3 linked regions of the Homo sapiens genome follow. The protein of the gene in region 2 purifies or fractionates together with the protein of the main gene of each other region. This does not show direct contact. Each region holds a gene or a part of one and is shown on either strand. Other genes may lie near its edges.

The links.
Region 1: the proteins of DMD (region 2) and KIF23 purify together in Homo sapiens (affinity purification with mass spectrometry; 2 studies listed by BioGRID and IntAct, with this or other methods). This does not show direct contact.
Region 3: the proteins of DMD (region 2) and LONRF3 purify together in Homo sapiens (affinity purification with mass spectrometry; 2 studies listed by BioGRID and IntAct, with this or other methods). This does not show direct contact.

Annotation. Positions count from the first base shown.
Region 1 is NC_000015.10:69,437,462-69,446,220, forward strand, and holds part of KIF23 (kinesin-like protein KIF23), read left to right. Parts: intron 1-786; coding exon 787-944; intron 945-2,442; coding exon 2,443-2,616; intron 2,617-2,846; coding exon 2,847-3,026; intron 3,027-3,306; coding exon 3,307-3,618; intron 3,619-7,328; coding exon 7,329-7,580; intron 7,581-8,547; coding exon 8,548-8,630; intron 8,631-8,759.
Region 2 is NC_000023.11:32,339,540-32,348,298, forward strand, and holds part of DMD (dystrophin), read right to left. Parts: intron 6,542-8,759; coding exon 6,404-6,541; intron 3,748-6,403; coding exon 3,595-3,747; intron 3,312-3,594; coding exon of another isoform or gene 3,303-3,311; exon of another isoform or gene 2,828-3,302; intron 2,744-2,827; coding exon 2,561-2,743; intron 1-2,560. UniProt on the Homo sapiens protein: Anchors the extracellular matrix to the cytoskeleton via F-actin. Ligand for dystroglycan.
Region 3 is NC_000023.11:118,983,731-118,992,489, reverse strand, and holds part of LONRF3 (LON peptidase N-terminal domain and RING finger protein 3), read right to left. Parts: intron 5,566-8,759; coding exon of another isoform or gene 5,410-5,565; intron 3,083-5,409; coding exon 2,818-3,082; intron 2,021-2,817; coding exon 1,930-2,020; intron 1-1,929.

The DNA of each region.
Region 1 (8,759 bases), on a different chromosome or scaffold from region 2:
TTTTTTTTTTTTTTTTTGAGACTGAGTCTCGCTCTGTTGCCCAAGTTGGAGTGCAATGGCGCAATCTCGGCTCACTGCAACCTCCGCCTCCTGGGTTCAAGCGATTTTCCTGCCTCAGCCTCCTGAGTAGCTGGGATTATAGGTGCACACCACCACGCCCTGCTAATTTTTGTATTTTTAGTAGAGACGGGGTTTCACCATGTTGGTCAGGCTGGTCTCAAACTCCTGACATCGTGATCCACCCACCTTGGCCTCCCAACATGCTGGGATTACAGACGTGAGCCACCATGCCTGGCTCTACTATTTTTATTATCATTATTCATTTGAATCTTTACCAAAAAGTTGTGAGATAAAGTGGTATTTAAATTTCCATACTGAAATGAAATTTGCCCAGAAATATTAATTAACTCGCCTAAGTCATAACTAGTAAGTGATGTTCCAAGGATTTCAGCTCAGGTTTAATTAATCCCAAATAGTAGTGTTGTTTCTATTTTTGCGTTTGTTGTTGTGAAGCAAAGTACCTGTAAGGATTGGGAAGAGAATGCTATAGTGCACAGTGAAAGACTTGAGTATTTTTTCAGCATTTAACAGAAAGCTTCTGTGAATATCTTGTCAACTGGAGAATGAAGCTCCTGATTTCCCTCTAAACTTGTTTTCTCATTATAGACTGATTCTCACAGAGATTTGCTGAATAACTACATTTTATCTAGTGTCTGCTAGCAAAAGTTGATATCATTGTTTGTTTTAGAACTGGTGTAAAACTTGACCTGTATGTTTTTGTTTCAGCTAATGCTTTTAAAGCTTTGTTACAAGAATTTGACAATGCTGTTTTAAGTAAAGAAAACCACATGCAAGGGAAACTAAATGAAAAGGAGAAGATGATCTCAGGACAGAAATTGGAAATAGAACGACTGGAAAAGAAAAACAAAACTTTAGAATATAAGGTTTGTTTTGACATTATTATGATAGATGTATGTGCTGGTGTTTTAGCACTGTTCTCTGAGGGAGATATTGTGCTCCAACGGCCTGTAAATGCTGCTTATTAAGAGTTCTCGGTTGAGTGCGGTGGCTCATGCAGGTAATTCCAACACTTTGGGAGGCTGAGGTGGCCAGATCATCTGAGGTCAGGAGTTCAAGAACGAGCCTGGCCAACATGGCAAAAGCCCATCTCTACTAAAAAAGTACAAAAGTTAGCTGGGCGTGGTGGCGAGTGCCTGTAATCCCAGCTACTCAGGAGGCTGAGGCAGGAGAATCGCTTGAACTGGGGAGGTGGAGGTTGCAGTGAGCCGAGATTGAGCCACTGCACTCCAGCCTGGGCGACAAGAGCAAGACTCTGTCTCAAAAAAAAAAAGAGTTCTCAGGCTGAGTGCGGGGGCTCATGCCTGTAGTCTCAGCACATTGGGAGGCCAAGGCAGGGAGATCACTTGAGCCCAGGAGTTCCAGACCAGACCGGGCAACGTGGCGAAACCCCATATCTACAAAAAAAATTAGCCAGGCATGGTGGTACATGTCTGTAGTCCCAGCTACTCGGAAGGCTGAGATGGGAGAACAGCTTGAGCCTGGGAGGTTGAGGCTGCAGTGAGCTGGGATTGCACGACTGCACTCCAGCCTAGGTGACAGAGCGAGAGCCTGTCTCAAAAAAAAAAAAAAAGTTCTCAATTGGTTGTTTACTAATCCTCATCCCATGCTAAGGAGGAAATGTGAGTGAAATGAAGAATCATATGTTCTTTAATTTTATGAGAGTTTTAACAGTTGAAAAGGATGTTCTCTGACCCAAACAAGGGAGCTTTCTAGAGCTTAGCTTTGGTTGTAGCTTGCTTTTGAATTTATTAGAAATATTTCCTTAGTATGCTTTTTTTTTTTAATGAGATAAATGATTAAATGAAATGGTATAAAAGTGCCAGCATCGGGCCTTGGACGTAACAGATACTCAGTAAAGCTTAATTGGATCTGTATTTGGTTTACAAATCGATTGTAAAAGTATAAACTCAGGATTAATCTCTTACAATGGGGTAGAAGGAAATACCGTTTTGTTGGGAAGCATTGCAGCACTGTGTAATGTATGTCTGTTCTCTCATTTACAGAGGGTCATTTAGAGGTTTGGTGGGGGTACACATTCATAAGAGAAGTTAGTCTCAACCAATATAGTTTTTTTAAATTCTGAAAATAGCCTAAAAACTAAATTTTAGCCCTTAATTTTAGGAGAAAGTAATTTTCACATGAAGTTAGTTGTAAATGTCTTTGGGTGAGGAGCTTGTTTAACATGTTTTCATTTCTGAGAATGGGGGTGGGAATTCAGATGAAATGTTAGAGAAAAAAGTGCTTTCTCCATGATGTTTCTTTCCACAAATATGCTTGCATAAGCAAATTAAGGAAGACTATTTTATAGCGACATGAAATGTTTATATACCAAATATTGAACATAGTGGTCTACCTTCCTAGATTGAGATTTTAGAGAAAACAACTACTATCTATGAGGAAGATAAACGCAATTTGCAACAGGAACTTGAAACTCAGAACCAGAAACTTCAGCGACAGTTTTCTGACAAACGCAGATTAGAAGCCAGGTTGCAAGGCATGGTGACAGAAACGACAATGAAGTGGGAGAAAGAATGTGTGAGTATCGTTTGGGTAGTGCTTGTCTCAGAGTCGGATGATTTATTTTACATTGTAGTTAGGTTCGATATTTTGAATTATTGTATTTGCGGTAGGGTTTTGGTGGTGGTTGTTAACTCTCAGGAAGAATTGGAGAACTGTCATTTTTAGGAAATAAAGAGATTGGGTAATCTGGTGTACTCGTTTGCTGTGATGGAATGATAATATACATTGCCACTGATAATCTGTAGGAGCGTAGAGTGGCAGCCAAACAGCTGGAGATGCAGAATAAACTCTGGGTTAAAGATGAAAAGCTGAAACAACTGAAGGCTATTGTTACCGAACCTAAAACTGAGAAGCCAGAGAGACCCTCTCGGGAGCGAGATCGAGAAAAAGTTACTCAAAGATCTGTTTCTCCATCACCTGTGCCTGTAAGTTATTTGTAATTGTGTAGTAACTTTGTACTAGAGAAATTTTGTTCAGATTAGATGACTATTTCTATGAGGATTTTTACATTTTATAATACTTACATTTCTGAAATTTCTCTAAAAATATTTTAAAATTTAGAATAAACACAAATTTAGCACAAAAAAATAGAACAAATAATTATTTGTAATGTTAAGTCTTCATGTGCTAACATTATAGAAAAGTAATGAATTGTTTCTCTCAGTTTTTCAGTCTTGCTCATTAATTTTTCTCCAATTTTTCTAGCTTTCTAGTAACTATATTGCTCAGATTTCCAACGGCCAGCAACTCATGAGCCAGCCACAGCTACATAGGCGCTCTAACTCTTGCAGCAGCATTTCTGTAGCTTCCTGTATTTCGGAATGGGAGCAGAAAATTCCTACGTACAACACACCTCTCAAAGTCACATCTATTGCAAGGCGTAGGCAGCAGGAGCCAGGACAAAGCAAAACTTGTATCGTGTCAGACAGAAGGCGAGGGATGTACTGGACTGAAGGCAGGGAGGTGGTTCCTACATTCAGAAATGAGATAGAAATAGAAGAGGATCATTGCGGCAGGGTTAGTGCCAGTATTATTTTAACGCATTGTAGCAATAGATTTTATCTTCTTTGTTTTTTGTAACTTGTGTCTGAAAGTTCATTGGAAAAATGGTTGGGCTATAGTATAAAGAAGGTCTAATTTCTCAGTTAATTTGAAAGATTGACTTACGGAAATTGAGGCCTGGCTCCTCATCTGAAAAAGCCTAAACACATCTGGCAGCGGAAGTGTGTTCAGTGAACACAGGTCAGTTTGGTGCATCCCAGAGTAGTCTGAGCTTTTCAGCTGCATACGCTAATAAGCTTTGCACAGAATTGGTGAATGTGTCTTAAAGCATACTTTCCATATTTTTCTTTTGGTTCCCCTTCCCCAAATTAGATTTTTTATACCTCCTTTCATGCCCTAGTTTTAAAAATTGTTTTCCCAAATTTTTATTTTGAAAAATTTCAGACCCAAAGCAAAGTAGAAAGAATAGTATGGTAATGTCTTTCCCTCCTTGCCTAAGTTTACCAATTGTTACTTGATATAGATATGTAAACCTTTTTCCCCTAAGCCTTGTGAAAGGAAATCACAGACTTAGAGACACTTAATCTCTAAGAATAAGGACATTGTACTACCTAGCCACAATCTTTATCACATCCAAGAAAATCAACATTAATTAATTATCCTCTATTGAGACATTGTGCAGTTGTCCCAAAATTGGATTGGCTTTTCTTTTTTTTTTTTTAAAGACAGAGTCTCACTCTGTCACCCAGGATGGAGTGCAGTGGCATGATTATGGCTCACTGCAGCCTCAGTCTTCCTGAGCTGAAGTGATCCTCTCACCTCAGCCTCCCAAGTAGCTGAGATTACGGGCAGGCCACCATGCTAATTTTTTATTTTCAGTAGAGACAAGGTCTCACCATGTTGCCCAGGCTGGTATTGAACTCTTGAACTCCAGCAATCCTCCTGCCTTGGCCTCCAAAGGTGCTGAGATTACAGGCAAGCCACTGCACCAGCCAGCTTTTTTTTCAATCCATGATACTATGAAAGTGTATGCATTGCATATCATGATTATGTCTTTCATCTCTTTTAATATAAAATAGTCTCACCCTGTCCCCCTACTTTTTTTATTTTTATGACATTGACTATTTTCATTGAAGAGTTTAGGCCAGTTATTTTAAAATTACTGATTTCCATGCCCAATAAATTGCTTTTAATCTTGAGGCATTTATCTCAATTTACATTTGCCTCATTCAAGGGTATTTAAATAAATTCACTTTCATATTTTTCTTCTTAAAGATTAAGGTAAAGTTTCTTTTGAATCTGAATAAATGGACCAAGTTAATGTTTGCGAATTTTATATTTAGTAAAATCTTCACAAAGCTCTCTTAGAATATTTCTTCTAAATCTTACAGTAAACATTTACTTTAGATTTTCTTATATAAGTCAGGGTATAGATGAATGTTCATTTATGTGGCCTGAATTCCTGATTATTAAGGGATGGTGATGAATCCCAAGTTATTTACCAGGGAAACAGATGATTCTAAAGTCTCTTAAGTTCTTTACTTTGCAGATTTTTCCTTAAACATTTTTAGACAGCAAATTAGGTAAATGGTCATTCTGACCAACTCTAGTCAGTCATTTTATGAAAGTTTATAGGCTGAAAACTATTCAAGGCTTGCGTATGCCTTGCAAACCGTAATGAGATATCTAATTTGGCTATGAGATATTTAAGGGAATTTACTAGAGATTCTTACGTGAAATCAAAATCTCTTTAGAAGTGCAGCAGAAAAGTTACTGTAAGGTTAGTATCTGTGCATCTAAGTTTGTTGGTCAAAAATTATGTCAGGTGGACTGAATTTATACTTCAGTGAGGAAAAAATTTAAATATTTGTTTCATAAATGCTAGTAGATTGTATGGATTATCATCTTTCTGAAGTGTGTTTCATCATATGCTTATTGTTAAATGTTTGAAGAAAACCTTTGTTTTTGCTAAATGGTAGATGATAAGGACCAGACTTTCTTTCGTGTTCAACATTAAATAAATCATTGTAGGAATGGAAAGTTCCTGTTTGTCTTGAGGCTCAGCATCTTTAGTGGCAAACTGTATTGCCCATGTCTTAGAGCTGTCACTAGTGCTGCATTTGTTTCTTGTTAACTATATAGCGAAAATGATTCAGTTCCTCAGATGTGCATTTTGAAATTGAGGTCTTCATACTTGACTAGCTTTGACAGATTTGGCCTGTGATAGACTTTTTCCATTTGCTTTCAGTTTTGTTTTTTGGGTTTTTTTTTTTTTTTTTTTTTTTTTTTTTTGAGATGAGGTCTTGATCTGTTGCCCAGGCTGGAGTGCAGTGGTGTCATCTAGGCTCACTGCAGCCTTGACCTTCCAGGCTCAAGTGATCGTTCTACCTCAGCCTCCTGAGTAGCTGGGACCACAGGCATGTGCTATCGCACCTGGCTAATTTTTAAATTTTTTGTAAAGATGGGGTCTTCTTACATTGCCTAAGCTGGTCTCGGGTGATCCTTCTCCCACCTCAGCCTCACAAATGTTGGGATAACAGGTATGAGCCACTGCACCCAGCCCTGCTTTCAGTTTTACAAACAGGAGATGTTCATAAAATTCTAAAGATAATTCATTGCTTCAAACTATAACTATGGCATATATGTGACATATTATTTTCTTAGGCTGAATGTGCTTAATTTAGCATTCCCAGGTTTACATGACATTTGACTGGAAGCAACTTGTTTGTTTTTGAGGCAGGGTCTCATTCTATTGCCCAGGCTGGAGTGCAGTGGTGCGATCTTGGCTCACTGCAATTTCCACCTCCTGGGCTCAAGCAATCCTCCCACCTCAACCTCCTGAGTAGCTGGGACTACAGGCACGTGTCACCAAGCCCAGCTAATATATATATATATATTTTTGTTTGTTTTGTTTTGTTTTGTTTTTGTTGAGTCTGGGTTTCACCATGTTGCCTAGGCTGAACTTGAACTTCTGAGTTCAAGTGATTCCTCCACCTCGGCCTTCCAAAGTGCTGATTACAGGCATGTACCACCATGCCTGGCCTAGCAACTAGTCTTTTATTGTGTGATAGAGACTGATTTGACACTGTATTATTTATTTGTTTCTTGGAACCTGTATGAAATGTTTGGGGGAAAAATTAGTTGGTATATTGTAGCCATTACTGTATTTGAACTTTTCATGAAGTTCTATTATGAGATTTTAAAATCTTAACTGAAAGCACTCAGAAGTATTTCACATTTCTTTAATCATTTTATTCATATGGTTCTTATTATACCTATGTTCTTAGGATTGTTTTCTGTTTTGTTTAGAAGCCTAGAAAATGTGTAGGGCTTTCATTGATCTTATTGAAGATTTTAACAGAGTTGTGGACATAATAGATTACCTCTCAATAGCAGGGATAAATATTGGTTTTTGATCAAGAATATGAAATGAGTTGTTTGTCCTGAACCACCCCCAAGCAGGAAAGACTTGCAGCATTACCAGAATTTTTTCTTTTATCCTTTATTGAAAGGGAAACTCCCAGATAGAATGTGTAACATACAAGTTGGTGTTAAAGATGTTTGTTGGTTTTGTGTTTAAATGCAAAGATCATGTTTAAATTACTTGAATAAAATATTTAGCTTTGGAAAGGTTTGCTATGATACTGTCATCAACTAATGTAGCCAAACCTGCTGCACTTCTAATAATACCCTTAAATTAATTCTGGGTTATGCTTGTTTCTCAGTTACTCTTTCAACCTGATCAGAACGCACCACCAATTCGTCTCCGACACAGACGATCACGCTCTGCAGGAGACAGATGGGTAGATCATAAGCCCGCCTCTAACATGCAAACTGAAACAGTCATGCAGCCACATGTCCCTCATGCCATCACAGTATCTGTTGCAAATGAAAAGGCACTAGCTAAGTGTGAGAAGTACATGCTGACCCACCAGGAACTAGCCTCCGATGGGGAGATTGAAACTAAACTAATTAAGGTAAAAAACTAATTTTCACAGGAGAAAAAAATATATTTAAAAATTCAACAAAAGTCCATTTGTCCTGCTACTCCTTTGGTGACACACAGGTAGTGTCAACTGGAACATCAGTAGGTATTTGATATAACCTTTTTGTTAGCAGAAAATTAGTCACTGCTTAGGTTTTAAGTCTGCCAAACTGGGACTAAGTATGCTTTAAATAGGTATAGATTCTTCGGTTTCTTAGAATTCTAGATCCATGATGTACTTTAATTTTTTAATGACTGTATATTTAGTTTTAACCACTACTTAAAGTAATCTAAGCAAAGAATTCCTATTGCTCTCCATCAGTTCAAGATAAAAAAACAAAAACAAAACAAAACGAAACCTATGTTAAAATTTGACCCGTCAAAATTACTCAGTATTGAGCTGCCTAAAGCCGTTTTCCAGAAAGAGACTTGCCTGACTATAGAAGAATTCCCCTTTGATCATAGGGTCAGTGAATAATCAGGAAAGTAAAAGATAAGACCAAAAAAAAAAAAAGCTTTTTATTTCAATTTCAATTTAGAGTTTTTGTTCTTATTATAATTAGCTACAAATAAGACTATACTGTCATTTGAATATGGGCAACAGGGGGCACTCAGAGAAGAAAGTACCATGCCTTAGAGCGTGTAGAAACTTCCAGCAAATTTCTTGATCCTTAGTGCAGTTTAGTTTTTAAATTACAGATGGAGCAAAAGGAATATTTTTTTCTGCAATTATGAATGTTACTGATTACATTGAATTGGACTTCTTTTATTTGTGAGAGATATGTACTCAAATTTCTAAATTATTTTGATAGTACGTACTCAGCAAGTACCAAGTACCATCTGATTTTGTGGATGGGAATTTCTATAAAATAGAATCATGAGAACAGTTTGAAATATATATGTGTGTTTTTCGTTTGGGTGTATCAATGTGTAACAGTGACCTTTTCTTTTGGCTTTAGGGTGATATTTATAAAACAAGGGGTGGTGGACAATCTGTTCAGTTTACTGATATTGAGACTTTAAAGCAAGAATCACCAAATGGGTAAGTAACCATCAAAAATCTCTGTATAAAAGTTGGTCATTTTCTTAGCTGCTCATTTTGGAGGAACAGAATAGCCTGTGAAATGTATCATTAATTCTCCAAAGGGATGTAGATAGTATTCCCCTACTT
Region 2 (8,759 bases):
TGTGTGGCTGGGCGCTGCCTCATGATTGTTCCCTCAAAGTCTCAGTCCTTTTCTGAGCTTTATTACTACCATATATAGCTCTGACATGGACAGAGTCCCCTAAATGCCTTAATTTTACAGTGGTTAGCACTTCTCTGAGTCTTTATCTGTGAGATAAGGAAAATTAATTTTTCATTTTAAACTCACTCAGCTCTCACATACTAAGCATTTTAAGAGTACCGCTTACTATTTCAACATGTTGCTGTAAAGACATGAAAGATGAACTTTAAGCCTACAGTTTATATCTAGAAAAACAAAAAGGGACAGTTAGGAAAAGTAAAAATCAAACAATTAGAGAAGGAGAATATAGGGGGAGGTAAGAAATTCTGAAGCTATGGCATATGCTGCATCAGAGCCATTGTAAGGTTATATCAAATACTACTTTTCATTAAGCTGTTACTGTGACTATCACAAATGACTCTAGGGCGTAAGAATTGGGAAAGATAACTCTAATCAGTGGCCACAGTGAAATTAGTTTTAAAATGCATTGACAATTGGTCAAGTATAAAGATGTATCTTGAATATTTCTACACCCACCTGTCTATCTATCTACCTACCAACCTATATACCTACTTATCATCTATCAATTATCCCTCAGTTCTAATTAAAATACGATGCCAAATATAACTGCAATATTAAATTGATTATTCTTCATACAGATTGTGATTACTTTATTATCATGGATAATTAAGAGTTAACACAAAAATAGCCCCCTTCACATTCTGAATTTTGGATCTTTAATATATAAAACTTAAGAATAAATCGTTTATGAGGAAAATATATCCCAGAATTTTACTACAATTTTTTAAAAATATATACTGGTTCACACATGCTTCCTTTATTTCACCAGTCATTATTACGTTGTACAAATATTTGTTGAGAGCCTACTATGAATAGGGACATAATGGCATTTTAAGTAAGTGGTTTATGGAGATTTTTGATCCTGTGCCTATTTAGCCATAAAGCATTAGCAACTTGATTAGTTTGTAACGAATTTTAAACCTGCATATTGGGTGTGTCAAGACCTGGGGAAAATTGGAATGGAGAAATGAGTTAGTAGTCAGATAATTCAAAGCAAAGGACTCCCCCTTGAATGATCTATTAAATTGAGGTGAAACTATTTTATTAGAATTTTCTTTTTGATTGCCTTAATCTTTCGCTTCATTTTGCATCTGCAGACACAGGCTTGCTGGTTAGTGTAAGGTTATTTATGACACATTACATTCATAACATCTAATATGAAGGATAATAGGCTGAAACATTCAGCCAGGTGGAATTAGACTTCACATGCAATACAGTTTCGCTATTTCTCGTATTCTTCCAATTGCTCAGAATAATTCACCTGCTATTAAACTTTAGGGTATTAGATTTAACAGAAAACAGTGTATTTATTAATTTTCTTGAAGTATTAAAAGAAGTCACAATAATATGCAACATACTTCCCTTATATGCTTATAAAATTAAGTTATGGTAACTGCTTTTGACATTTTAAAAATATACACCAAATTAAATGGAACTGACACTATCACAGAAGAAGTTCCCAAGAAGTCTCATACATGGGCTGAACCCTATGCAGTTATTATTTACATAGGGCAAAATGGTTGAGTATCTGTTTGATTCATATAATTCAACCTAACTTAACTATAAAGACTTAGTTTCCAGATTTTGACATCCTGGTTTTGTGAGGAGTACTTTCTTCTATAATTACAGATGATGATCATTCCTCTTCATCTTACAAGTGTTAATAATAGGAACAAAAATGTACCTGTCAGAAAACCTCTATGGTTTATACCTACTACAAATAAAGAAGTGAGACCAAGCTAACAATTCTGAATCGCCTTTTTAAAGAGAGAACCATACACTTTCCATTCAGTTGTTTGAAAGAAGAGCAGTCACTCCTTTTTGTTTTGGCTGGTAACATTTCAGTAATAACATTATCTGATATTGTTCAATCTGCAATCAATTAGCAACCATCTTACTAGGCATCCAGTTCTTTTATGGGCACTGTAACCCATTAAGTAGTTAAACCAGGTGTGAGGATTAAGCTATTATTCTTCAAGTCAATGAGATAATGGCTTATGCAGGTTGACATAAGATGTACCATGAAATATTTATTATTTATCATGTATACATTAAGAAAGTAAAATCAGCATGGGATGATCTCAGGAAAGCAATACATATTTTTTGGATTAGACATTGAAGTAAAGTGAATGTATGATAAATTGACAAATTAACATTGCCAATGTTATGAAAAATGATGTAGCAAAAAAAATTAAGATGTATTTTCATTTTTGATAAGGGGTTTTCCCTGTTATCTGTTAATTTCTTGTGTCTTTAATTGGCAAAATTAAGCACTAGTGTTACAGAAGCCCAAAGTGAGGGAAACCACTCACTTTCAGAATGTACATTAGAAGTTTAAAACTGTACCCAGATTTTTTGTCTCTTTTTTTTTTATTAGTAGGCCTCTGTTAATAGAGTAGTAGTTGCAAACACATACGTGGGTTTGCCAGTAACAACTCACAATTTGTGCAAAGTTGAGTCTTCGAAACTGAGCAAATTTGCTCTCAATTTCCCGCCAGCGCTTGCTGAGCTGGATCTGAGTTGGCTCCACTGCCATTGCGGCCCCATCCTCAGACAAGCCCTCAGCTTGCCTACGCACTGCATTCAGCTCCTCTTTCTTCTTCTGCAATTCCCGATCAATTTCCTATTGAGCAAAACCAATACAGGGCCCAGGGCAGTTAGCTAACCACATCAACCGACTTGCAAGCAGCAAATACTTCTCTCAAAATTTCAAAGGCTGTTGTCCCTTTATTGTCATCCTTTGAAGTTTACAAATATGAAAGGCATGACTGTCATCCTCGCTCAATAACCCAAATATTATTTCAGTTATCCTTTGAATGCTTGGTTTTAGATATTCTAATTAAGTAAATATTGAAATTGGTCTAACATTTTCTTTCTTCTAAATTCCTCTGGTGTCTTGGGATTTGAAACAATTTGGAGTGATAACTCATTATTTATTAGGGACCGTCCACATAGAATATAATTTAGAGGGTAAGTGAATAAGTTATTTATTTCCTTTTTAAAGGTTTGAGGAACTCAACAGAGAATGAAGCAAAATAAAAAGTGTAAAATAATAACAGAAAAAAACATATTTAGACAATATGCAAATAAATCTATAGAGAGTGAACACTGATGTGTGAAGATGCTCTGATGAAATGAATGGGCTAACATGAGTAAGAAGTCGTCCATATACCGATAAGTCATTAGTTCATCTGGAACAAAGATACACAAAGTCAATTACAATTTTACCAGAAAACACATCACATTTCTTAAATCACTTTACATAGTCTAAAACATTTTATTCATTCAACATTACGTCAATTGAATAACACTTAATACAATACATTTACTGAAAACAACACACAATACAAGGAAATGCATCAAATCAAAGAGAACGTTAATAGAAACAAGAACATCAACATTTTAAATATGATCTTCACAGGTTAATTAAACTGTATAATAAAATCTGGTATTGACATTCTAAAACAACATTACCTTTATTTTCCTTTCATCTCTGGGCTCAGGTAGGCTGGCTAATTTTTTTTCAATGTCATCCAAGCATTTCAGGAGATCATCAGCCTGCCTCTTGTACTGATACCACTGATGAGAAATTTCTAGAGCCTTTTTTCTTCTTTGAGACCTCAAATCCTGTTCATGGTGCAGACATTATTAAAATATCAATATATATGTATAGTGCACTTCTGGCTGCAGTTATTTATCAAAATAATTTGCGTCCCTCATCTTTTTGTACAACTTAGGTTAAAATCATATTTAAATGCAAAATATACAAAGACATAATTAAATTGCCTATGCATGAGGCGGGACCCATGTATAGGAAGCTAAGAAACCTGAATAACACACTTAAAGTATTTTCTCTTAGCATGTTCAAACTTGCTTAAAAATTTTGTCACATTCAATTGACTCTTAATGAGCTAACTGTTGTGTAGTTTATGTGCAAGAGTTTAATATACGAATACAATTGACTTAACTAGATACAAACTCACAAACCTAGTGAGTTTGTATCTGACTTAAAATAGGTAAAATTCTAAAATGTATATCTTTAGCCTTGGGGCTCATCAACAAAACTTTATGTACTCAACCAATATACATTCATGTTTTTAGAAATGCCTACATAAGAGTTTCATAGGCCATTAATATTTTATGATTAGAAATATAAAGCCATTTTAGTTGTCTTATAAACTGTTCCAAGCTGTATGTGTAGAAGTGTCACCACTGTTCGTATATTGGTGAACATAACTAATAAAAAATTATGTGAGATAAATGCTTCTCCTTCCAAGGCTTGCATAGCCACATTTATCTTACTATACCAAATCATGCTCTAAATGCAAAACAATTAACTATTTGAAAAAAGAAAACAGCAAGTGCATGCTTTCAAATCAATGTGATAAGACTAATTTAATAAATCAACAATGGGAGGAAATCAGTCATCATGCTCTTTACAAGCACACTCAATATCTTCTGTGATTAATAGAATTACTCAAAATGCCATTTTATAATTCATGGGAACATAAGCTCTGCATGCAGCTTTCATTTCTACAGAAAGTAGCAATTAGGGTTTTATTCACAGGTTTAATTCGAGCGAAAAAATAATAAATATCAGGGAATTTCTAAAAATTTCATTCCATTGGAAAATTTTGACCTTCTCTAAAATATTTCATAAGGACCAGAATTGGAACTATTTGACAGGTTTAAAAAGTTATTGAATATGTTGGTATAGATTGGTTTGGCGAGTAGTGTTGACGATTTTGATTAATCACTTATAGCCTGTATTTGCAAGAATGAACTACATTTCATTATCTAGTTTGTTTAAAATTGGGAATTTAAACCTTGCTGTACTTTATGTTTTATGTTGAATTTTCAAACCTTCTGAGGAGTCAGATCGAACGCTGCTTTTTTCAAAGGTAGCAAGATACAGCCACGTGAATTAGAGTTGAGCCATGCCTTATTTGTGACATAACTCACATCTTTGCCAGGAGAAAGGGCTTGGTGGTCATCAATCTGAAACATCTTTCATTTCCTAAGCACAAAGTGATGTATAATATGTAAAATATTTAGAGATGTCATGTAGATTTCTTTAGAGGAATGCCAGATGACCATTAAACACTGCTATTCAGTAGGACACACACCATCATACGACCAGTGTAGATACTTCTGAAAGCTTGCTCACAGTTGGAAGGGTGTGAGTTACATAGCGTTCCGATTTTCTAGACACATTATGGTGTGCTTTTGCACTCCCTCGAGGAAGAGGCCTTTTCTGTTTACTATATTTATCAGCAGTTACCTTCAGAACACCTGCTGGCCAATTAGACTTTCCTTGTGGATTCCTTGCAGGCACAATATTGTGTAATTACATTCTCAGCAGTGTTTATTTGGTTGACTATAGGGGGAAAGGTTTTATTCTCTTATTTGCATGTAGAAAGCAGACTCCATCTACCTGCTAGGTGGATCCACCTTCATAACTACATAGCTCAAAAGAGTGATTTACAAGGAAAAGCTCAGCAATTAAAAGTATTAGAAAATCAGCCATGCATGCAAATAGTGATTATTGCAAAGCATATACAAAAAAAAAGTTTCACAAAACTTTCCACATGTCTAGTCTCAAGAACTTCCTAGATATTATTATAGAAAAATTAAGTTTATCCTGCTCTTCCTGCACAAACCAGATGAGTCACCTGGGGACTTGAAGCCATACACTACACTGCTTAATATGAAAGTAGCAGTTCTTATTCAAGGGCACTAAGATTATTTTTTAGGATTCCTACATAAATGAAATTTGACTTTGTAGATAGTTGCAAAGAGTGACTTTCTTAAAGGCATAATAAAGTTTTAAAAATAAATAAAAGAATCTAGGGCTTATTAAACAAGTATCAGGTTACCAAAAAATTGGACCTAATGCAAGCAAAATCAATTAAGTAAAGAAAGCAGGAATAATGGATACATGTAGATCGGTTATTCTGGCAGTTAGGCAGGTTTTTTTCAATATAAAGTAGCTGATAAAAATAAAGCACATTAGAAAATTAAATGTATAAGTACTATGAATGCATTCCCATCTTTCAATTACTACTTAGAAAAATATGTCTTTAAAAAGCCATAACTTTTAAGCAACACATCGTTCAAAATCAAATACCACTCAAAAATGTTAAATAAAGCATACACATTGAACAGAAAAAGTGAGTTTCTGATGACTAAGTCTGAAGCAGATTTTATTAATGCACATTATATTTTACCCTATATATTAAAAAAAAACCACAGGCAAGGTATATTATAATTTTAGCTCTAATACCTTGAGAGCATTATGTTTTGTCTGTAACAGCTGCTGTTTTATCTTTATTTCCTCTCGCTTTCTCTCATCTGTGATTCTTTGTTGTAAGTTGTCTCCTCTTTGCAACAATTCTTTTACAGTACCCTCATTGTCTTCATTCTGATCAAAAACAACAAGTACAGTCTTCATTTTGGTTTTTAAAAAGCTGTACATTGTTAACAGAGATAATAAGACATGTTATTTAAACACACACAAAAATCCAATTTAAAACTTTCATGGAATGCTATTATAAGATACTGTGCTCATAGCCTTTCTTTTACATTTGGTACTTGAGGTTTCAAAATAAGTTTCCTCCCATCTAGTTGTAAAGAACACATTTTTAGGGGCACCTGTAGAAAGATGGGGGAGTGTGGTACTTCATCATGTCAGACAAGTCATGAATTACTGTGAAAGTATTCTTTTGGCTTTTTTAGTGTAGTTCTAGAAATTAAAACATTAGAGAAATGAGCTAAAGTTATCATTTATAATGTTAACTGATCCATAAAGGAATACAGATGTGTATTTGTGACTGAGATAACAGCAAATCTGAAAATATTAACACACAACTACATGAAAATATTTTGATTTAAATGTACACTAATTCCTATCTAATAACTCCTGCTTCATTTCTGAAACCTAAATGCTCAATATTAATAGGAGAAATATCAGGATATTAATAAAAATCATGTGCTAAGTTACCATCAAATAATTTCTAAAATATGTCATATATGCATGTTAATTTAAATACGATCAAATAATACTAAAATATGGACTGGAAAATGGCTTTAAACATTTTCAATGGGTATTTTGTTCCTTTAGGCTGCAAGAACAATATCTTAATTTTCTTTACTTAGAAATAAAATGTTTTGAATAAATGCTGGTCTAATATAGTCGCATATATGACCATGTGATTTTTCACCTTTAGTTTTCTTTCTTTCAACTCAGAATGTGAAAACTTTGTATCAAGTAGTCTCACATTGTAATGGTACTCAAGGTACACTGATGACATAAGGAAAACAAATAATAAATTTCAAAAGTCACAAGTATTTGTATGTGTGTATTACAATTCAAGGAATTAGATGTTATATATTTAAATCTATAATGCATAAACTTCAACACGCAACTGAGGACTGATTCATTTTGTATGGGGGAAAGGGATTATTTTTGTCAGAGACTGGTCAATAATCTAAAGAAACATACGGCATAATATAGACACATTATATACTTATCATAATATAGACACATCATATACTTATAGTCTGTAAAAGACTTTACTTATTTTAAAAGGTGTTGTAAAAGTCTGTAGCATTTTCTAGGGCTGAGGACAAAAACAACAAAAAATTAAAAAACCCACTTCACTTCTTTCCCTATACCAGTTGAGGGCTCTAGGGCAGAGTTGGGGTCAGCCCAAGAGGTAATCAGTACTTTTTTTCATCTTGGTGCCCTCTAGTTTCTTCTTTGACCTGAAGTAGAGATTGCTGTAACTCAGCAACTTGGAAAGCCTCTTCCGTCTTTCCACAAGCTGAGTTGGCAAGGCCACCAAACCCCATACATGGGGAGTATTGATTGAGGCAGCTCCAGGAAGTGGGAACTAAGATTGGTGGGAATAGTTCTCCTATTGCTTCACACACTTATTACCTAAAATTTATATATTGTCTTCTGATGTCACTTTCAAGCATTGTCTGAGAAGGCTCTAGCACTGGTAATTGTAAAGGTTAAGAATGCCACAGAGGTGATGGCAGTGAAAGAGGGGAAAAAATTGTGAAAAGGAGGATGAAGAGAGAAAAAAAAAGTCAGTTAATAAGGATGTGATGTACAAATATTCAAGCCAGAGAGAAATGTAGTAGATACTTTGAAATTAGTTGGGATTGAAGGAGAATATTCTGAGGTTGGGAAGAGCACACATGGTCATATTTCTTTACTCCCATGAAATAAGCAGCATGAATTTATACACATTTTAGACATATAATGTACTAACTAAACAACTATTTGGTAAAACAACTTTGTGGGAAATTGTAATAAATAATGTTCATATTATGCATTATTCTCTCTTCATTGAAATAAATGTTATACTACCAAAAACATTGCTGATACAAAATGTCAGTCATCTATGATAGTTGAGTATTTTATTAAATTTTTAGTTTATTTTATGATTCGACTCTTTTTTCCAATTACATTTTGCCCTTGATAAGTTCAAAAGTAGGTCAGGTCAAAAGAAAATTGCTGGGCTATTTATTAGAAACCGTAAGTGCTCCTATATTACCATACCATAGTAATTCAGCATTTGTAATAAAAGGCCAAGAATATTCTGCATTTATAAAATTCATTAGAATCATAA
Region 3 (8,759 bases), about 87 Mb from region 2:
GGGTGAGATTCCCAGGTCACTGGAGTTGTGTACCTAGGAGGATTATGGCTGCCTTTGCTGAGTCATGCAGGTTACCAGGGAAGTTGGGGAAATACAGCAGTCACAGGCCTCACCCAGCTCCCATGCAAACTGAAGGGCCAGTCTCACTTCCACCGTGCCCTCCCCAACAGCTCCAAGTCTGTTTCCAGGAGGAGAGTGAGAGGGACTTGAGAACTCGACCGAGGCTATTTGCCTCCCAGAGTATTTGGGGTGTCTCCTGGGTCCTGCAGAAGCAACCCGCTTCCTTCAGAGGGACTGTGGGCCCTCTCGGGATTGCTGGTTTGTTCTTTAGTCCATCTGGAGCTCCACAGCCCTCCCCGCAGGACCCGCCAGCACAACGAACAGCAGCCTGCCAACCGTCTTAATTTTTGTGCAAATATCTCAGCCTCCTTTTAATGCTCTTTTGGAAAACAGACACATTTGTGAATCTGCTAAAGGATGTGGACCTTGTCCTGGAAAACCCACATACTTTAACATACAACTTCGAGACATTAATACATCTATTAGAATCCATATATAGAACATCCTCAGAGGTCCATAGACCCAAAGTTTCCTTCTGGACCTCTGGTCTACAAGGAAAAAAAAATAGTTAACATTTACTGAGTATCTATTATATGCCAGGCACTATTCCAGGTGTTAAACAGATTTTTCTCAATTAATCATGACAACCCTATGGAGTAGGTACACTGTTCTCTATTTTACTGACAAGAAAACAGTAGCAGAGAATGTCACTTGCTCCATCCAGGTCAACAGCCAGTAAATGACAGAGCAGGGAGCCTCTCCTCTAAGCCAGTAAGTCACAGCTGTGAAATCAAAGACATGTAAGCAATTTTAAAAAATTGTGTATGGTTACACACACCATAATCATAGCCTCTTTCTTTTGGGGTGGGGGAGCATGTGAATAATTTGCCTCTCCAGAGATCTGAGAAAGTAGAGATGATGTGGCACTGTTTGGTGGGGAGATACTTGGCTAAGTATCTCAGGCCCACCACTAATATTCATGGCACAACACAAAACAAAAGCTAGTCAGGCCCACCACTTGGCTTCCCAAGAATAGTCTGTGGTGGTGACAGTAGTCCTTGAACTTTGAGCTCTTGCCCATGTAACTGAGATTAGTGCTGGGATCCAAAATTTAAATTATCTCTAGGGGCTAAGAATGTAATGCAATTGTGACACACAGGTTGGAATAAGGCAGGTGGGTGGCGGGGGCGTGGTCAAATGGAGAGTACATGTCCTGTCTCAAGACATTCACGTTTAAGAAAAACAAACCCCATGAGGGCCAAACAAAAGACATATTCAGACTGGGTGCAGTGGCCTGTAATCCCAGGACTTTGGGAGGCCCAGGCAGGCAGATCACTTGAGCTCAGGAGTTTGAGACCAGCCTGGGTAACATTGTGAAACCCTGTCTCTACTAAAAATACAAAACTTAGCCAAGCGTGGTGGCACAGGCCTGTAATCCCAGCTACTTAAGAGGCTGAGGCACGTGAATCGCTTGAACTGGGGAGACAGAGGTTGCAGTGAGCTGAAATCGCACCACTGCACTCCAGCCTGGGCAACAGAGCAAGACTCTGTCTCCAAAAAAAAGACATAAAAAAAAAAGACATATTCAGACATATTCAGCCCAGTGGGCCATCAGTTTGTGACCTGTGAATAGACTGTTCCCTTCCCACTCTCCAGGTTTTTCCAAGTCAGGAGCCAGGAATGCAGGGAATGCAGTCTCTGGGAAGGGGACACAAGCTGACCCATGTGACAATCAACGTTGTGATTTCCATTCCGTTAGAGCTATGCTTTTTACATGCTAACCAACCCAGCAGTAGGTCACTAGCAGAAAGGTCCAGACACCAGAGATGAAGAAACATCAGGAAGTAAATGATAGTACACAGGACGTACCTCATACATAGAGCGCATTCAAGGTCAGATGCGTCGAAAGATGCAAGTGGTAAACTGAGAGCAGGTTTGTCCCCCTGATCAGTGGGAGGATCTGCGATTTAGAAAGCAAGAAGTCAGCGCTGGAGCCACCCCGGTTTCATAGATAGTACTTCTGAGGCAAAATAATCCAATGCGTTTTTCAGTTTGCCACTCTCACCACCACCTCCCAGAGAGTTGATTTAGTGGACACCTGAGCCGTTGAGAATGGGACACTCAGAAGTAGGCTCTCAGAGGTTTCCAGCAGGCCCAACAGAAAGAGAAATGCAAGTCAAACAATGTCCAGGAGCCCTGGGGACTTCATTCAAATGCAACATGCACCTCTGTCAACAGCAGAAGCTACAGCAACTCAATGGACTGAGCCAGGCCTTCAAAGCTAAAACTGAATCTTGGCACTGCCAACCTCTCGTGGAAAGATAGCAAGCCACAGCTGCTGCTTCTCACATGCCTACCTATGGGAACACAACTGGGAATGAGCAGGGTGAGGCCTGACCTCACTTTCCTCATCCTGCATTCCTAGAATGGGGATGGGGGTAGCAAGAGGCTGACCTAGAAGGAAGTGGCATCCCCATGGGTATGGGATGTCATTAGTTGATACTGTGCTTGACCTGATGCCTTGGCTTTCCATTATATTAATAATTAGTATTGAACACTTTTTACAGTGTGCTAGGCACTGTACATGATCTCACAGAAGCCTCATAGCAATCTCTGAGGTCACACAGCTAGTAAATGCCAGAGCTGGGCCCCACACCCAGAGCCTAAGGAGCCCCCAGACAGAGGTAAGTAACTTGTATATATTGGTGAGCCCGGGGATCTCCTCCAAGCTACCTTCTCTCTGGGTAGAGCCAGTACCTTGCTTGGAGGCTTTATTAGGCATCCCCGTTTCTTCTTGGGATTCAATCTGGCAATGTTTCCTTTTCTTTTCCTGGCATTTTCCAGTCTTGCTGGAAGCAGCTTTTGGAGAGGTAGCATCCCACTTCTCCTCCTCTTCTTCCTGGTCTTTCATGTGGTGCTGCTGACCATCCCCCTTCACTTTAGCTGGGTCCATCAGACTGCTGCCATCTCCCCTGGCTGCTGCTTCCTCCTGACTAGAACAATGTGGGAGCTCCAGATTGTCCTGGATGAAGAAAGGGCCACATATCAGAATCTTCTTAGGACTAATATTGTCCTCTCATATTCCTACCCAGAGGAACAAAGGGAAACTATAGAGTCCTGATCCCCACCCCGAACTCATAGTGGACACAGAGCTCAACTTGGGGGCCGTCATAAGGCATTATTTCCTACTTCTTTTCTGCACAGTATCTGCAACCAAGGCATTCCCAGCTTGGGTGGAGTTAGGGAACTTCCTTAGGCAAGGACAGGAAGGTATGTAGGAGGAGAGCCTCCTTGGGCAGGTGTAAAAAGGGGAAATGCCAGGGATAGGCACCAGTTCCCCTTCCTATAAAATCCTTCCCCAGTAACCACTTTAGCAAAACCAAGGCAGGCAGTGACGGCAGATCCTGTCACTCAATAGTTCCTCTCGCCCTCACTGCCATTCACGGCCGTCTGCGATCCCCAAACTCCAGCTCCAAAAGGACTTTTGGTAGGGCTTTGGCACAGGTCTGTTCACAGGCCTGCCAAGTTACCTCATGCTCCAGGTCTGTATGTTACACTGGTCAAATGAACAAGGTACAAACTATTCCTTTTACTAGATTTGGGGTGAAAAGCATTAAAAAAAAAAAAAAAGACAAAATCACCTGGCAAAAAAAATCAACAATGTCTCTAGCCTTTTCAAGAATATTTTCCCAGGAGATGGATATTTGAAAAAGGATTTAGAAATAAGTGCAATAACAACATGTTTATGCAGATTTACATGGAGAACCCCTCTCTAATCTAAACCCATAGTCCATAGGTCAAGATACTCATCGTGTTGTTTCCCTCTAACCCTACCAAAAAAAAACTGGCAGACAGGTGAAAAAGGGGAGCATATAGCTGGGAGAAAACAATGAGGTGAGGACAAAAATAATGTGGGTTTTCTCTGTGTCTAACTTGGGAGTTGGGGTTTTCTCCAGCACTACAGCAATACTACAACCTTGACTTTCCATGAACCCAAGGCATTGGCCACTCAGGAGTATACTGCTTTGCAAAGCAAAGTTTGGGTGGAAATCCAATCCTTGTTCCCCAGCTGGTTGACATTGGAAAGCCAAGGTTGCTGTTTTTCTTCTTTTCAGATGGAGCTGCAATTAGAAGTCACTCCAGGCATTTGGGTTCAGTATTAGCATTCTCAATCATTTAATAGTGATCTTAATTATTGAAATCACTGGGGGTTCTGTGATTTCAGGAGATCCTCTAAGTTCTGCCATTTTTTAAGAAAAGTTGGGCGCACCTGCATTTCAGTCCTTTTATGAGAGCCCAGGGCTTACACACAGGAGAAGAACACCGGGCATGAATGGAGGGAAAACTGCCCCCTAAAGATGCCCAGGCATTCAGTGCTAAACTCTGCCTTGGAGTCTGCGCTTCTGATCCTCAACTTCTGACCACTTACCCTCTGCCGGGAAAGCCAGGGCCTGGAACCCATCTCTCTTGTGTTCTGTTTCCTGGTTTTCAAAGAAAGGTACAAATACCTGTCTTCCTCCCAGGTCCTTCAACTCAACTTTCTTTCCAACATCTCTTTCCTCTTCTCTGTTACAAATACGTATTGGAAGCTTACTTATGTATAAGGCATAGTGCAGGAATATGAAATTACATCCATTTGAGGATCAGAGTTGTCTTTGCACAGGATAAGTGCTGGCACTCAAAGGCCAGCAGCTTGAACAAACAAAAGCTCGAAAGGAGGGATTGTTAGGCCCTCTTCCCAGACTCATCCCCAAAGCCTATAAACCCACCCAAATGGTATGGCCCAGGGGCAGTGAGCCAATTCCTTTCTAGCTCTGTAAAATCTCTCTCGGCTGGATCTAACCAAGAACTGGAAAAAAATGTATCCTAGCACTTTGGAAGGCCAAGGTGGGAGGATCACTTGAGGCCAGGAGTTCGAGACCAGCCTAGGCAAAAATGGTGAAACCCCGTCTCTACAAAAAAAAAAAAAAAAAAAAAAAAAAAACTTAGCCAGGCATGGTGGCACGTGCCTATAGTCCCAGCTACTCGGGAGGCTGAGGTGGGAGGATCTCTTGAGACCAGGAGTCTGAGGCTGCAGTGAGCCATGATCATATCACTGCCCTCCAGCCTGGGTGATAGAAAGAGACCCTGTTTCATAATTTTTTTTCAATGTAATGAATAAACTCTGGGACCATGCCTGAAATTCACAGTTGCATCTTTAAGAGGTTCTTTGCAAAGAACAGAACCACTAGTGACTCAATTTCTTCTTTCTCAGGAACCAAAATAGGAGAGGGAGGGCTCACTCCCCACGTTTGCCCACAAAACAGCCAAACGAAGCGTCACGAGCGAGCTGGGTGAGTTGAGTTTTACCTGTAACAACCTTGGTAGATTATGGCTGGTAACTTCAGTAGTCATTGACTCTACGTTTTCCTTTAATCTAGGGTGAGGTGCCAACAGCTTCAGGATATCGGGAGAATGTTCCTGAGAATCCCCCGGGACTGATGGTGAAAAGAAACTAAGGAGAAGCTGTGACATAAAACAGAAGACTTCACTACTTAAGTTTCTACAGGTGCCCAGGTGAAGGGGAGGAGGGTGAAGGGGGGAGGGAGCCAGCTTGCAGGGCAGAACTCCAGGGAGGAAGCCTTGGACCAGTGTCCCTAACACACCACACCAGGGCAGGGGTCCTCGCTTCAGCGGGCATCAGAATCAACTGGGGAACTTATGAAAAATCTAGGTCTCTACTTTGTACTCCCATCTCCCCCAGGTCTGGAGTGTGGCCCAGGAATCTGGATTTTGAGAAGGCACTACAGATGCCTCTGTTGCCTAGCCAAGGTTAAGAGCCACCATGCTAGTGCTAACACTCCGCAGAAATATCTGCAGTGGGATTTTAAAACTCATCTAGGAGGAAAGAGACAGAGAGGTAAAGTCAGGAGAGAAACCTCACTTGGGGAATTTGAAGTTCATAATACCTCAGTGGGTAGAAGTCTACAAATGTCTTCTAGGATCCTCACTGTTTCTTTTCTCCACTACCCATTTTGCTTCCTCCTCTCCCCACCATCACCCCTGGATCTTTAATCCCTTCAAAGCTGGGAACCTGAGCAGTTAACTGTTAGGAAAAACAGAACTCCAGCTTCCTCCCTCTTCTCCCAACCTCGCCTCCCCTATGCTGGCCTTTGCCTCCCAGAGGATGTTAGGTTAAGTTTAAGTACTAGGCGCAAGGAGGTTCCAGTCTCTTGCTGGTTTCCCTTGCAATTGGATAAGCTGGGAGGGTAGACGTGCGTTCTAATGTAGCTTGCACCATTCACTGTCCACATTCTTGCCCCAAGTTTCCCCTGTACTAGCAAGGATTGTGTGTGTGTGTGTGTGTGTGTGTGTGTGTGTGTGTGTGTGTGTGTGTGTTTCCATATACTGAAACATGTAACACAAGGAGAGCAGGTGACTTTGCTTCTAAAACCTGCTCCAGTGCTTACCACCCAGCAGCTCCTGCAGTGTTTGGAGATCCACTAAAGGAAGCTCCAGTCCCGTGCTGAGGGTACATAGTTAGGGTATTAATTGATCAACAAAATTTGACAGAACACCAAACTCCAGTTTGATTTATTCTCTGGCCCCCAGCAATCTCTTCATGATGTTCCTTCAGATGCCAGCACTTGCCATGAAGCCAAACCCCACTCAGCCTTCAAAGCTCAGCTCAAGTGCTACCTTCCCTCACTATTCCAGTCCTGTTCTACACAGTAGTAGAGAGTGCACCATAATATAGCATCTTGAACAACACCACGTTATGTTATCCTAGAAATGTGTCACAGATGTAAGCCTTTCTCTCCTGCCAGACGGCCAGCTTCTAGAGGGCACATAACAGATACCCAATAAATGCTCATCACACTGGATGGAATTGAATTAAGACACTTATCCACCCCAGGGCCCAGGGAGAGGCCTAGCATTCAGGCCCAAAGTCCTCAGATTGATCCTTATGTTTCCTTTCAGCTCTGAGAAACCCACTTTCCAGTTATGAGTTGGCACAGGAGTTAAATGGGGAGGTACTCACAGCACCCGGGGCCATAAATGCCAGCTTTCAGAGGTCCCTCCTCCACAGGAGCCAAGGTTGGTCCTCTGAAGCCCTAATGCGTGACTCAACAGGACCAAGCCAGTTCTGAGGAGGCAGTATCCTTGGAATTCTCCCAAAAAGAGCATAATACTCTTCAGTGGCAGCCACACAGCATCACAAGGTGCAAGGATGAAAGGGCAGAGGGTGGTGGGAAGGAAAAGAAGGCCAAGGGAGAAATCAAAGGAAACAAAGCAGAAATAATAACAGCAGTTCCCTTCTTCATTTTACTACTTGAGATCTCTCTCTAGGCCTTCTCAATGGCATTGGAAAACAAAAGTTGGGGTCAATTCTCAGTGAGAATGATCATTCCACATGAATGAAAGTCAATTCCACTTCAGCCTCAGCCTTAGAAAGGCCCAAATAGGTCAAGAAGAGGGAAAAAGAATCTGCAGTAAAAACAAACATTAAAAAGAAACACAGCCTGTGAGTTCGAAGGCAGCTTATAAATGTCAACTGAACCTGCATCATCTCTGTCAAATCTTTAGCCCTGAAACTGGAATGATCTAGTAAATAAACACAACTGAGGACTCTTGATGTTCTGAATCGCCGCCATGGCCTCATCACACCCAGTGGAAATTCGCCTCTAAATTCTCGCCCTCACTTCAGAACTCTGTAACACTCATCACGGGCATACACTCGCTTGCATCATCTGGCATTTATGTTAACAAATGCAAGATTGTTAAGTTCCTTGAAGACTAAAACTGTGACTTATGCCTCTTTGGGTCTCCAGAGCTTCACACAATGCCTTGCCTCCAACCATTAGGCAGCTGTGGAAATGACAACAGTTTCTCTATAAAAGCAGACTGGAGAGACAGGTCAGCCCAACTGATGACACCAAAAACATCTCAGGCTAGCTGGGAAATGGACAAACAAGAGTCAAGAAACCATTCCTCCTTGGGTCTGAGACCTGCCTCTGCTGGCCTTTGCACGCTCCGTCCCCAAAGATAAGTTTCTTCTAACTGCCTTTGTTCATCCTGGAACTGGAAAGTTCCATTGCTACTATTGATCCAGCTTCACCAGTGAGTGCTAAGGCTGTGGCCATGTCCTCATGGGAAGCAGGATGGCAGAGCAGCTAAGAGGCCAGGCTTTGGAAGCAGATAGACTTGGGTTTGAATACTTTCCCACCAATCACCAGCTGCATGACCTTGGGAAAGTCAGCAAGCCCCAGCTTCATCTGTCTCACCTGTAACCTGAGGATAACTAACCAAACCTAGCCTCAGGAATGTAGTGGGATTTAAATAATATACTCCACATAAAATGCCTAGCACAGTGTATAATGCAGAAGAAATTCTCAACGAATGTTAGCTATTATTATTATCATTACATCATGGACTACACTTAAGATTTGGAGAAGGGTCCACAGCTTGAAGCAATTCTCCCCGAACCGTGCTCCTCTCAAGCACACCTTTTTCACATACTCAAACCAATTCAAAGCAACTTCCCAGAAAGGAGATCTTTTGTGAGACAGAAAATCCAGGGCCAGTTCCCTTATTTCATTGATTTTGCTAACTATTCCTTTCTAGAGCCTTCAGAAACCAGTTCTGTCTCTTGCTCACTTTCTTTATCCACTGCTCTGCCAAACCACACTGGGACAGAAACCGTAAGGCTCCGCGGTGAA